3 linked regions of the Homo sapiens genome follow. The protein of the gene in region 1 interacts with the protein of each later gene in a biochemical or structural test. Each region holds a gene or a part of one and is shown in the gene's direction. Other genes may lie near its edges.

Region 1 (3,648 bases):
ACTCTGCCCTGGCCTGCAGGTGCCCTGCCAGTCAGCGTCGTCAGCCTCTGCCCTGGGCGGTGTCAAAGTGGAGAGGCAGGTCTTTGGGGAGGCCACCAAGCAGCCAGGCATCACCTTCATCGCAGCCAAGTTCGATGGCATCCTGGGCATGGCCTACCCCCGCATCTCCGTCAACAACGTGCTGCCCGTCTTCGACAACCTGATGCAGCAGAAGCTGGTGGACCAGAACATCTTCTCCTTCTACCTGAGCAGGTGGGCGTGTGGGTTCCCTCTCGCTCCGCGTTGCTGGGAGGCAGGGCGGGGCTGGACGGGGAGCCTTCTAGGCACCCCCTCTCAGTGCTGCCCCCTCCCTGCTGCTGTGCCAGAGCTCCTGACCTCTGACCTCAGGGCATCCGGGAGGCGGGGGTTGGCCGCCCTTCTGCAGAGGAGTAAGCGGCAGCACAGAGAAAGCTGTTTGGCCGGGGTCTCCCAGTGGGAGGGGCTCGGGCCAGGCTGTGGGTCCTGGGACCTTGGCAGCTGGGCCTCCCTCCTATGAGAATGGACCCAGGTCAGGGGTCGTGGCAGTTCCTCTTGGTTCAGTCGGCCCGTCGGTCCCCAGACCTGGTGATGGGCACATGTGGTCCTGGTCCCGGGGTTGCTGATGGTGGAGAGGGTCATGGTGCCCAGGGGACCGGGGATCCCCGGGGAGGTGACCTTGGGTGCGTATGGGTCCCCGGCACCACGCTGCGAGCAGCTCTGTGGGCGTCCCCAGCAGGTGCCGGCTGCCCTCGAGGAGGAACATAGGGGGCCCTTCCTTCTGGGAAAAGGGTTCTCCCCCAGGGCCCCCACCTGCAGCCGCTGCTCCAGCTTGGGTGACCCATGGTCAGGTGACCTTGGGAAGGGGACGTCGGACTCAGTTAGTTTCCTCTTCTCGGGGCAGACCTGAGTGGAGGGTTCCACATAAGAGGGGTGACTGGGGGTTGGGGGCTTTTGTTTTGGGGGTGGGCAGCGTGTCAGCCGGCGGCCTCCTGCCCTGAGCTGCGCCTGGTCACTGCCCCACACTCTCCAGGGCTGACAGGGGCAGGTTTACCTCACGTGGCTCACTTGGCACTTGGAGTCTCTGGGCCTGACCCCTAACCTTGGATCGCTTCCGGCAGAATTCCGGCTGTAGGGCTGGCTGGGCCTCTTTGCTCTGCCCCTTGCCTGGGCAGTGAATACTCCTTAGCAACACCCAGGGCTAAGCTGCTCACTAGAGGCCAGGACACAGGTGAACCGGCTGGGCCATTTCCCCAGGAGCCTTGGGGCACAGGGGAGGCAGCCAGGTGAAAAGGGGTCCCCTGAGGGCAAGAGGGCATGCAGGCATGAGTGCCCACATGGGGAGGGGGCACACAGCCTGAGTACCCAGGTCAGGGAGGGGGACACAGGCATGAATGCCCATGTGGGGGAGGGGCACACAGCATGAGTGCCCATGTGGGGGAGGGGCACACGGTATGAGTACCCAGGTCGGGGGAGGCATACACAGGCATGAGTGCCAGGTGGAAGGAGGGGCACACAGAGTGAGTGCCCAGGTGGGGGAGGTGCACATGGTTGTGAGTGCCCAGGTGTAGTCTCAAGGCAGCAGCTTGGGCAGGAAGTGGAGCCAGGCAGGAGGGAGGGTCTGAGGGCTTCTGAAAGCATGTTTGGTGAGGAGAGGAGGGGTGGGAGGCGCTGATCAGGTTTCTACACTTGGGATTGCAGAGGTGTTGACAAGAGGCAAAGGCGGAGGAGGCTGGAGGAGGGCGGAGGCCCCAATCGGTGTTGGGAGGACTGGGTCAGGCCTGGCACTGCCTCGAGTGACAGGCAGTGGGATGGTGGCCAGCTTAGCTGCAGACGCTCTGGCGGGATGGCAGAACCGCCCCAGACACAGAGAGCTTCTCTACCAGGACCGGCAGGATTTGCTGCGTTGAAAGCTGTACTTGAGCAATGTTTAGAAACAAACCCGGGCGACATGGGTTGCAGGTCCTAGGAAGTGCAGTGCGCTCCTGCCCAGGAGCACCTTGGCTGGCCATCAGTGGTCTGGATGAGGGGGAGATGAGCGGACGTGGCTCGGGGATGCAGGTGGAGGGTGTTCCCAGGAGCAGCCAGTGCAGAGGCCCTGCGGCCAGAACCAGCCATCCCAACTTCCCAGATTGTGCCATCACTCCCTCCTGGAAGCCTTCTTTGGTTTTTTCTTCCAGACAGACAGACAGGGTCCTCCCCAGTGGAGCTCCTGGCACTCACTTCCTTGTCTGCCGCTAGCCTTGACCCTGATGTCTGGCTGAACCTTGGCTCCTGAGCAGACCAGGAGAACCTGAGGGTTGAGGAAAACCTCTTCTGGGCCAGGCTGGGCCCACGCAGAGCAGCCCTACCCCGGGAAGAAGGGAGTCTGTCCCTCCTCCTGCCTTCTGGGCCTTTCCATCCCTGCAGTTTCAGAAAGGCCCCTCCTTCAGGAAGCTCTCCCTGATTGCCACATTCACCCTCTTACTCCTGACCTGGCACTCTTGTGCTTGGGGGGTGGCGTGGCAGCTGACTCCTCCCTTTTCCTCCTAGGGACCCAGATGCGCAGCCTGGGGGTGAGCTGATGCTGGGTGGCACAGACTCCAAGTATTACAAGGGTTCTCTGTCCTACCTGAATGTCACCCGCAAGGCCTACTGGCAGGTCCACCTGGACCAGTGAGTAGTGGCTGCAGTCGGCTCCCCTGGGTTCTGTGGGCGGGGGCGGTGTGCGGAGACCCTGGAGGACCCCGGTTCTGCAGGTGGGGGTTGCATGTGGGGAGTAGTGGGAGCTGGGCAAGAAAGAGATGGGGTCAGACCAGCCCTCCATGCCCCTCCTTGCCCCTCCATGCTCCCCATCACCTCCATCCCCTCTATTCCCTCTATCCCTCCATCCCTCCATTTCCTCCATGCCTCTGTGACTCTCCATGACCCACCATCCCTTCTGTCCATCCCTCCATGCCCTCCATCCCCTCCATCCCCTCATCCCTCTGTGACTCTTCATGACCCTCCATCTCCTCCATCCCTCCATCCCCTCCATCCCTCCATCCCTCCATCCCCTCCATCCCTCCATCCCTCCATCCCCACATCCCTCTGTGACTCTCCATGACCCTCCATCCCCTCCATCTGTCTATCCCTCCATCCCTCCATCCCTCCATGCCCCTCCATCCCTTCATCCCCTCCATCCCCTCCATCCCTCTATGCCCCTCCATCCCCTCCATCCCTCCATGCCCCTCACCACCACCTGAGGGTCTCCCACCCCCTCTACCACTCTGTGTCTCCTCTCCCACCCTCTTCCCTGGAGGGCTTACAGCCGGCTGTGCTTCCAGGAGCCCTGAGGGGAGGAGAGTGCAGCCCAGCCAGGGGAGGGGCTCCCAGGGAGGGGCACTGGGCCCCCAGGGCACACTCCAGTCCCGGCAGGGGCTTCACGCCCTGACTCCCCGCAGGGTGGAGGTGGCCAGCGGGCTGACCCTGTGCAAGGAGGGCTGTGAGGCCATTGTGGACACAGGCACTTCCCTCATGGTGGGCCCGGTGGATGAGGTGCGCGAGCTGCAGAAGGCCATCGGGGCCGTGCCGCTGATTCAGGGCGAGGTGAGCGCCGGGGGCTGGGGCTGGGGCTGGGGCTGGCAGGGGGAGCCCCAAGGCCACCACTACCAC
Region 2 (3,648 bases), on another chromosome or scaffold:
TATAAAAACCCCAACATAAAAGCAGTAATCTGAAATACAGCCAAGACCCAAGACCTGAGCATCAACTTAGTGCCCTGCAGCCAGGAGGAAGAGGAATAACCGTGATGAAGAGAGTGTAGTGAAGGGGTACAACCAGGACAGTGGGGAGCAGCGAAGATCGGATGGTCAGCAGCCAAGCAAAGCCTCCTTTCCCATTGGAGAGACTCACAGATATGTGAAGGCAGGGGTTAGAGGGGTTTTGGTAGTTGCCACCAGTGATGGTTCCTAATTAGACTTCTGTAACCAGACATCATCATGGCTGTTCCACTAGTAACCAGCCTGTGTGTTTCCATCCTTCAGGTGGTATTGGAATGCTATGTAAGAAAGGACTTGGTCTACACCAAAGCCAATCCAACGTTTCATCACTGGAAGGTCGATAATAGGAAGTTTGGACTTACTTTCCAAAGCCCTGCTGATGCCCGAGCCTTTGACAGGGGAGTAAGGAAAGCAATCGAAGACCTTATAGAAGGTATTGAACTTGTCGCTGCATTCTTAGTGGGACTATGGAAATGTTCCAAATTATTTTTAATTCCAATAGTCTGCCATCATTTATTTGTGGTTTATTTGCGGGAGGGTTTGGGACCAGGTCAGTAGATGCCAAAACTTTTGGAATTTCCAAGGAGAGTAATTAAAGTGACAATTCAGGGAAAAGGAGATGGGTTTCAGAGTAAGGAGTAATCCCAATTGATTTTTAGACTCTGCTGTGAAAAAACAGGCAGGTTCTGGATTTCCATGTGCATGTATTTTTGACTGCTTTCACCTTGTCCTGACTATTGAAATGGCTTTGGTCTGGTCTGTCTTGGCTCAGAAGTAGAGAATGGATTCTGGCGGGCCCAGAAGGCTCCTGGCCTACCCACTGTCCTCCTGTAATCAGAGGCCCAGGGTGTACAGCTGCCACTGAAAAGGAAAGGGATCTGTGACCTCTGGAGCCCTGGTTCGGTTTAGGCCTTGGTCTATGGGTAAGTGAGTAGTAGGCATTGTGTTACATCTGATCGTGGCCTGGAGGGCCCTTGGGCAGTCAGTTCTCATGGTGGGCTTGACTAGAGTCCACAGATGCAAACACAAAAATTCTCCACTGCAGCACATCCAGGTATCAAATCAGAGGGTTAAAGAAGCCATAGACAGGGCCCTGTGAAGAAAGAAATATCAAGCAAGGCATGTTAATACCAAATTCAGATCTTGGGGAAATTAATCACAAAAGGATGTATGTTTCATTTGCTTAAGAAATAAAAGTGTTCTGAAGTCATTTTCTTCATTGTGGATTTGGGGGAAGAGGAAAAAAAGCAAGTCTTAAAAGACAAATTACTTAACATTATAATCAGTAGTAAGACAAGACTAGCTAGAACATGAATCCATAAACAAGTATGAGATAGCCAAAAAGAGATAATAAAAACCAGTGTTCAAATCATAGTTCTGACATAAGTGGCAAATATTTAAAATGTTATTAAACACAGCTTTTTCATGTTTAGAGAAAAAACAGCTCCTATATTATTGATAGACGTTCGCATTGTGTCCATGTACTTAATTGCACAACATTTCATTCTCCTACTTGTAATTTTTTTCTCTATATACATACTATCTAGCTTTTTTTTCCACCAGTTTTCCTAGAACATTGGTTGATTGGAGTAATTCAGAGTAGAGACAGCTCCCGAAAGACCAGTAGGAGTTGCACAGAACATACTATGGGACTGTTGTTTTTTCTCCTGCAGTCTCTCGTTGGAAATTTAAGTATTTCTCATCCTTTCTGAGCAATTGTTTTCATTTCAATTTCATGTAATAGCAAAATATTTTCTTTTTCTTTTTTTTTTTTTTTTGAGATGGAGTCTCCAGCCCAGGCTGGAGTGCAGTGGTGCCATCTCGGCTCACTGCAACCTCCGTCTCCCAGGTTCAAGCGATTCTCATGCCTCAGCCTCCCCAGTAGCTAGGATTACAGGCGCCCGCCATCACACCCAGCTAATTTTTGTATTTTTAGTAGAGACAGGGTTTCACTATGTTGGCCAGGCTGGTCTTGAACTCCTGACCTCGTGATCTGCCGGCCTCAGCCTCCCAAAGTGCTCGGATTGCAGGCGTGAGCCACTGCGTCTGGCCAGCAAAATATTTTCTAAATGCATATTTTAAAAGATCTAACCAAGAAAAGGAAAAGATAGAGAATAAATTTCCCTTTTGGTATATCTGTCACTGATGCAATTTTAAATATGTCTTTCTTTTGGCCAATTAAGTTGATCCATGCATTATTGTCTGCTATTCAGGGTGGTGGGGGGAAGTAGGGCAGTTGTACCTGATTCGCATACCAGAATGAAGAAAAAGGTGAACAAGTAATTACATTGAACTCTAAAATCCAATTGGTTCCATGATGGAATAAGGAGGGTTTTCTAACAAGAGCTGTAATTTTGACTTGGAAAAACAAAGCAAACTCACTGATGCCTTGGTATTGCAAGAGGAAACCCCCTTGCACAGGTGTCCCCTTAGAAGGGAGCCCACAATTTGGGATTTAGAAATACAACATCTGAATTCAGAACTGGACACAACCATACAAGCTATTGAGCTAAAATGCCTTCATTGGTAGGTGAAAAGACCAGAGGAGCTAAATCCAGTTTACACAGTAGATTGTGGCAGGTCTCACTTAGGGGTTCCCCGTCCAGTGCTTTTCCCACTACACGGCTGGGACCTCAAGGTCACTACAGAGGCTGGGCTCGATGCATGTCCCTCAGAGGAGTGGGCAGCCTCTCCCCTCACCTCCTCCACAGTGCCTTTCTGTGTGCTTATTCTCTAGCAGCGAGTGCAGAAGTTTGAGAGATTAATTGGGAACAACAGCAGGCAAAGTTAATTTAGGGAGCATCCTGGCAAGAATCAATTAAAGAAGAGTAAATTAAAAGCACTCAATTCCCAGGTAACTTGTTTCTGTTGGTAATTCACATGCAAAAAGAATGGAATGTGGTTTTATTAAAATATACTTTTTTAAACGGTTGGATTTGATGTATCCTCTTGGGAAACACTTTTTATTACATTTTTGTCTTTTTAGGTTCAACAACGTCATCTTCCACCATCCATAATGAAGCTGAGCTTGGCGATGATGACGTTTTTACAGTAAGTTTCCTTTGTCCTTTGCTTTCCAGATTAGTTGTTGAATAATCAGAGAAAGGTTTTGTTTAAGGGCATGAGGCACACTTTGCAATGCAGTGTTTGCTGTTGCTGTTTGGATGGCATCAGAGCGATCTCTGTCTTACTACAATTTTTCTCAGGCTGGGTTTGTCCCTGTTGCTCACGCTGCAGTGAGCAACACTGCACATCTGCCACACAGCACAGCAGTGTCAGCTCTCCCAGGTCTGTCCAAGGTTGTCTTAAAGTCTTTGCTCAGATTTAGGATGACCAGCTGCCCTGGTTTGCCCAAGTCTGTCCTGGTTTTAGCACAAAATGTCCCTAGTCCTGGGAAACACCTCAATCCCAGGCAAGCCAGGACAATCGCTTGCCCTATTTGGAGTCTTCTGTGAACACGCTTCCCTCCCTGGCATCAGGGGGGAAAGCCAGCAGTATCTTTCCTGATGAGTAATTAAACATCTGATAAGAAAGGCCTGCAGGCTGACTTAAGGTTAGGCCCAAGTGTGCTAA
Region 3 (3,648 bases), on another chromosome or scaffold:
CCTCCATAGGGACAGGCGTGCAGACACCCGTCCCTGGCTGCTTCCTCTTGTGGAATGGGTTCAAAAGTAAGCAGTGTTGTTTACACTGACAAACTGAAAAAAAAAGAAAAAGAGATAACATTGGAGGCTTGGCACAGTGGCTCATGCCTGTAATCCCAGCACTTTGGGAGGCTAAGGTGGGAGGATGTCCCCAGCCCAAGAGTTCTAGACCAGCCTGGGCAACATAGCAAGACCCCATCTCAAAAAAAAAATTTAATTGGCCAGGCAGAGGTGGGAGGATCACTTGAACCCAAAGGGTGGAGGCTGCAGTGAGCCGTGATGGCACCACTGCACTCCAGCCAGGGCAACAGAGGGAGACCCTGTCTCTAAAACAAACAAACAAACAAACAAACAAAAGAGTTAACATTGGCCAGATTAGGATTCACCAGATAGTGTTAATATTAGTTTGATTTGAGACTTTAATCAGAAAGCACATGTGTGGTGGGGGTGGGTGTAACCTAAGTCAGGTAGAATCTTTCCAACTTGGGGGGGGCACACTCCTGATTGTAGCCATATGAGTCTGTCAGTGTGGTGGAAGAGGCCATGGGTTAATGGGCAGGTAAAAAAGCACCTTGCCTGGAATTGAGTAGAAAGTAAGGCCCTTCAGACCCCGTGACACACTTGGGGACATTTTCTTGAGTAACATCCTAAGATTCATGTACCTTGATGATCTCCATCAACTTACTCATGTGAAGCACCTTTAAACCAGTCGTCTCCAAATTCAGGGGCACAGTAACATCCAACAGGCTGGAGAAAGAACGTACTAGAACTTCCATTCCTTTTTCATGTCCTCTTCTAAAAGCTTTGTCAGGGCCAGGCGCGGTGGCTCACGCCTGTAATCCCAGCACTTTGGGAGGCCGAGACGGGTGGATCACGAGGTCAGGAGATCGAGACCATCCTGGCTAACACAGTGAAACCCCATCTCTACTAAAAATACAAAAAAACGAGCCGGGCGTGGTGGTGGGCGCCTGTAGTCCCAGCTACTCGGGAGGCTGAGGCAGGAGAATGGCGTGAACCCAGGAGGCAGAGCTTGCAGTGAGCCGAGATTGCACCACTGCAGTCCAGCCTGGGCGACAGAGCGAGACTCCGTCTCAAAAAAGAAAAAGAAAAAGAAAAAGAACTGTGATTGGGGAGGACGGTCACTTTCCTGTTCTTACTGATCAGAAGGGATATTAAGGGTACCTGATTCAAACAGCCTGGAGATCACTGCTTTCAACCATTACCTGCCTTATTTATTTTTAGTTACTGTCCTTTTTTCAGTTTGTTTCCCTCCTCCATGTGCTGACTTTTATTTTGATTTTATTTATGTTTATGTTTAAGACATCCACACGTTCCTCTGCTAAAACCTTGAAAAATAGGCCTTGCCTTAGCCCCAAACACCCCACTCCTGGTAGCTCAGACCCTCTGATCCAACCCTCCAGCCCTGCTGTGTGCCCAGAGCCACCTTCCTCTCCTAAATACGTCTCTTCTGTCACTTCCCGAACTGGCAGTTCTGGAGCAAAGGAGATGAAACTCAAGGTAAGGAAACCACCTTTGAAAAGAACCAGGCTGCTCTGCTGTGGTTTGCAAATGTGGGGTTTGTTTATTTGTTTTTTAGCCTCAAAGACCTTTCTTCAAATGAGTTCTGGCATAGAAGCACCGTGTAAAATAGTTAGAATTCTGGGCAAAGGGGAAAAGAGAGCTGGGGGCCATCCCTCTCAGCACCCCACAGGCTCTCATAGCAGCAGCTCCTAAGACACCTGGTGGGACCTTGGTTTCGAAATCGCTACTCTAAGGCTGGGCACGGTGGCTCACACCTGTAATCCCAGCTCTTTAGGAGGCCGAGGAGGGTGGATCACCTGAGATCAGGAGTTCGAGACCAGCCTGGCTAACATGGCAAAACCCTGTCTCTACTAAAAATACAAAAATTAGCCGGGCGTGGTGGTATGCGTGGTGGTAATCGCAGCTACTCGGGAGGCTGAGGCACAAGGATTGCTTGAACCCCAGAGGCAGAGGTTGTAGTTAGCTCCAGCTTGGGCGACAGAGCAAGACCCTGTCGCAAAAATTGTTTAAAAAACAAACCCAAAATTGCTACTCTCATTGGGTTCCTTTGCCCATTCCTGATTTTGGCAAGAGAAATGCTTCCAGATTGCCCTGATCTGGGTAGGACAGCATCACGCCATAGCAACACTGCCCCGTGAGCTCACTGCCCCCTCAACTAGCTTGTGGTCCTTGGTTAATGTCAGTTTCTTTTTTGAGTTTGTGTTATGTCTAAGGGTCATCTGCTGGGTAACGGAACCCAGGGACTGCCCTAGTCCCTAGACTGTGCCATGCCCGACTCTGCCAGCTTTGTCAGTGATGCTGGTGCTCGCCTCCTCGGGTGCTCGCCTGGTCTGAGCACACCCAAGGAGTTCTTGAGGCCTTAGGGTTGTTTGCGAGAGAATGAAAGAACACGACCTAGCTCTCTTTAGCATCCTTGGTCAGGTTCAACACTGCCCCCAGGGGCCTCTGGTGGAGCCAACCACCATCAGCCAAATAAATCCATAATTAGAGTCAGAAAATGGATGTCTGCATATGTGTAGTGCACTAATGTCCTGCCGATGATTGACATGGAGTGGAGAGTGACCTGATCATTGCTGTGAGCTCTGCTGGCCTTGGCACAACTCATGCTGATAACTAATGCACACAGTTCCTCTGGGAGGAAATGTCCTCAGGGAACTTGGAGTTTGGGTGGGGATGTGGGTTTGTGTGCCCAGCAAGCCCTTGTGGTTGTAGCAGACACTAGTGGCATCTAGGAGGCAAAGGGTCACCCCAGTCTTAGCCACGTTTTGAGTCAAGGTGGCGGAGTGGGGCTGGTGTTGACTCTTGGTGGCAGTAACTTTTCCCAATGGTGAAAAACCCCTCTATCATGTTTCATTTACAGGGGGCTGATGGTAAAACGAAGATCGCCACACCGCGGGGAGCAGCCCCTCCAGGCCAGAAGGGCCAGGCCAACGCCACCAGGATTCCAGCAAAAACCCCGCCCGCTCCAAAGACACCACCCAGCTCTGGTAAGAAGAACGTTCTCTTGAATCTTAGAGGAAGCTGAAGCTCTCAGAGGTACAGCCTTCATTTTAGGAGGCCTTAGGCCACTGAGAATGAATAACCCCTGGCAGCTGGTCAGCAGCTTGCAGTTTACTAAGCACTGGAGTCTTCATTGCCTTCTCAGTCCTTTTGATTTCTGAGGCAAATGTTGAATCCCTACCTTTTTTTTTTTTTTTCTTTTGAGACAGAGTTTCGCTTTTGTTATCCAGGCCGGAGTGCAGTGGTGTGATCTCAGCTCACTGCATCCTCCACCTCCCAGGTTCAAGCGATTCTCCTACCTCAGCCTCCCTAGTAGCTGGGATTACAGGCACCTGCCACTATGCCCGGCTAATTTTTTGTATTTTTAGTAGAGACAGGGTTTCACCATGTTGGCCAGGCTGGTCTCGAACGCCTGACCTCAGGTGATCCACCTGCCTCGGCCTCCCAAAGTGCTGGGATTACAGGCATGAGCCACCACTCCCAGCCTGAATCCTCACTTTTTATCAATGAAGAAATTGAGGCTGATTCTGCAGCATGATAAAAAAAAATACAGAAAAAGGAAAAAAA

What was found.
Region 2: the proteins of CTSD (region 1) and SPRED2 form a complex in vitro, tested with the Homo sapiens proteins (one study listed by BioGRID).
Region 3: of the proteins of CTSD (region 1) and MAPT, one has a biochemical effect on the other in vitro, tested with the Homo sapiens proteins (one study listed by BioGRID).

Annotation. Positions count from the first base shown.
Region 1 is NC_000011.10:1,753,928-1,757,575, reverse strand, and holds part of CTSD (cathepsin D preproprotein), read left to right. Parts: intron 1-19; coding exon 20-252; intron 253-2,547; coding exon 2,548-2,670; intron 2,671-3,437; coding exon 3,438-3,582; intron 3,583-3,648. UniProt on the Homo sapiens protein: Acid protease active in intracellular protein breakdown. Plays a role in APP processing following cleavage and activation by ADAM30 which leads to APP degradation.
Region 2 is NC_000002.12:65,331,465-65,335,112, reverse strand, and holds part of SPRED2 (sprouty-related, EVH1 domain-containing protein 2), read left to right. Parts: intron 1-339; coding exon 340-508; intron 509-525; exon of another isoform or gene 526-994; coding exon of another isoform or gene 995-998; intron 999-3,061; coding exon 3,062-3,126; intron 3,127-3,648. UniProt on the Homo sapiens protein: Negatively regulates Ras signaling pathways and downstream activation of MAP kinases. Recruits and translocates NF1 to the cell membrane, thereby enabling NF1-dependent hydrolysis of active GTP-bound Ras to inactive GDP-bound Ras.
Region 3 is NC_000017.11:45,988,519-45,992,166, forward strand, and holds part of MAPT (microtubule-associated protein tau), read left to right. Parts: intron 1-1,359; coding exon 1,360-1,557; intron 1,558-2,941; coding exon 2,942-3,068; intron 3,069-3,648. UniProt on the Homo sapiens protein: Promotes microtubule assembly and stability, and might be involved in the establishment and maintenance of neuronal polarity.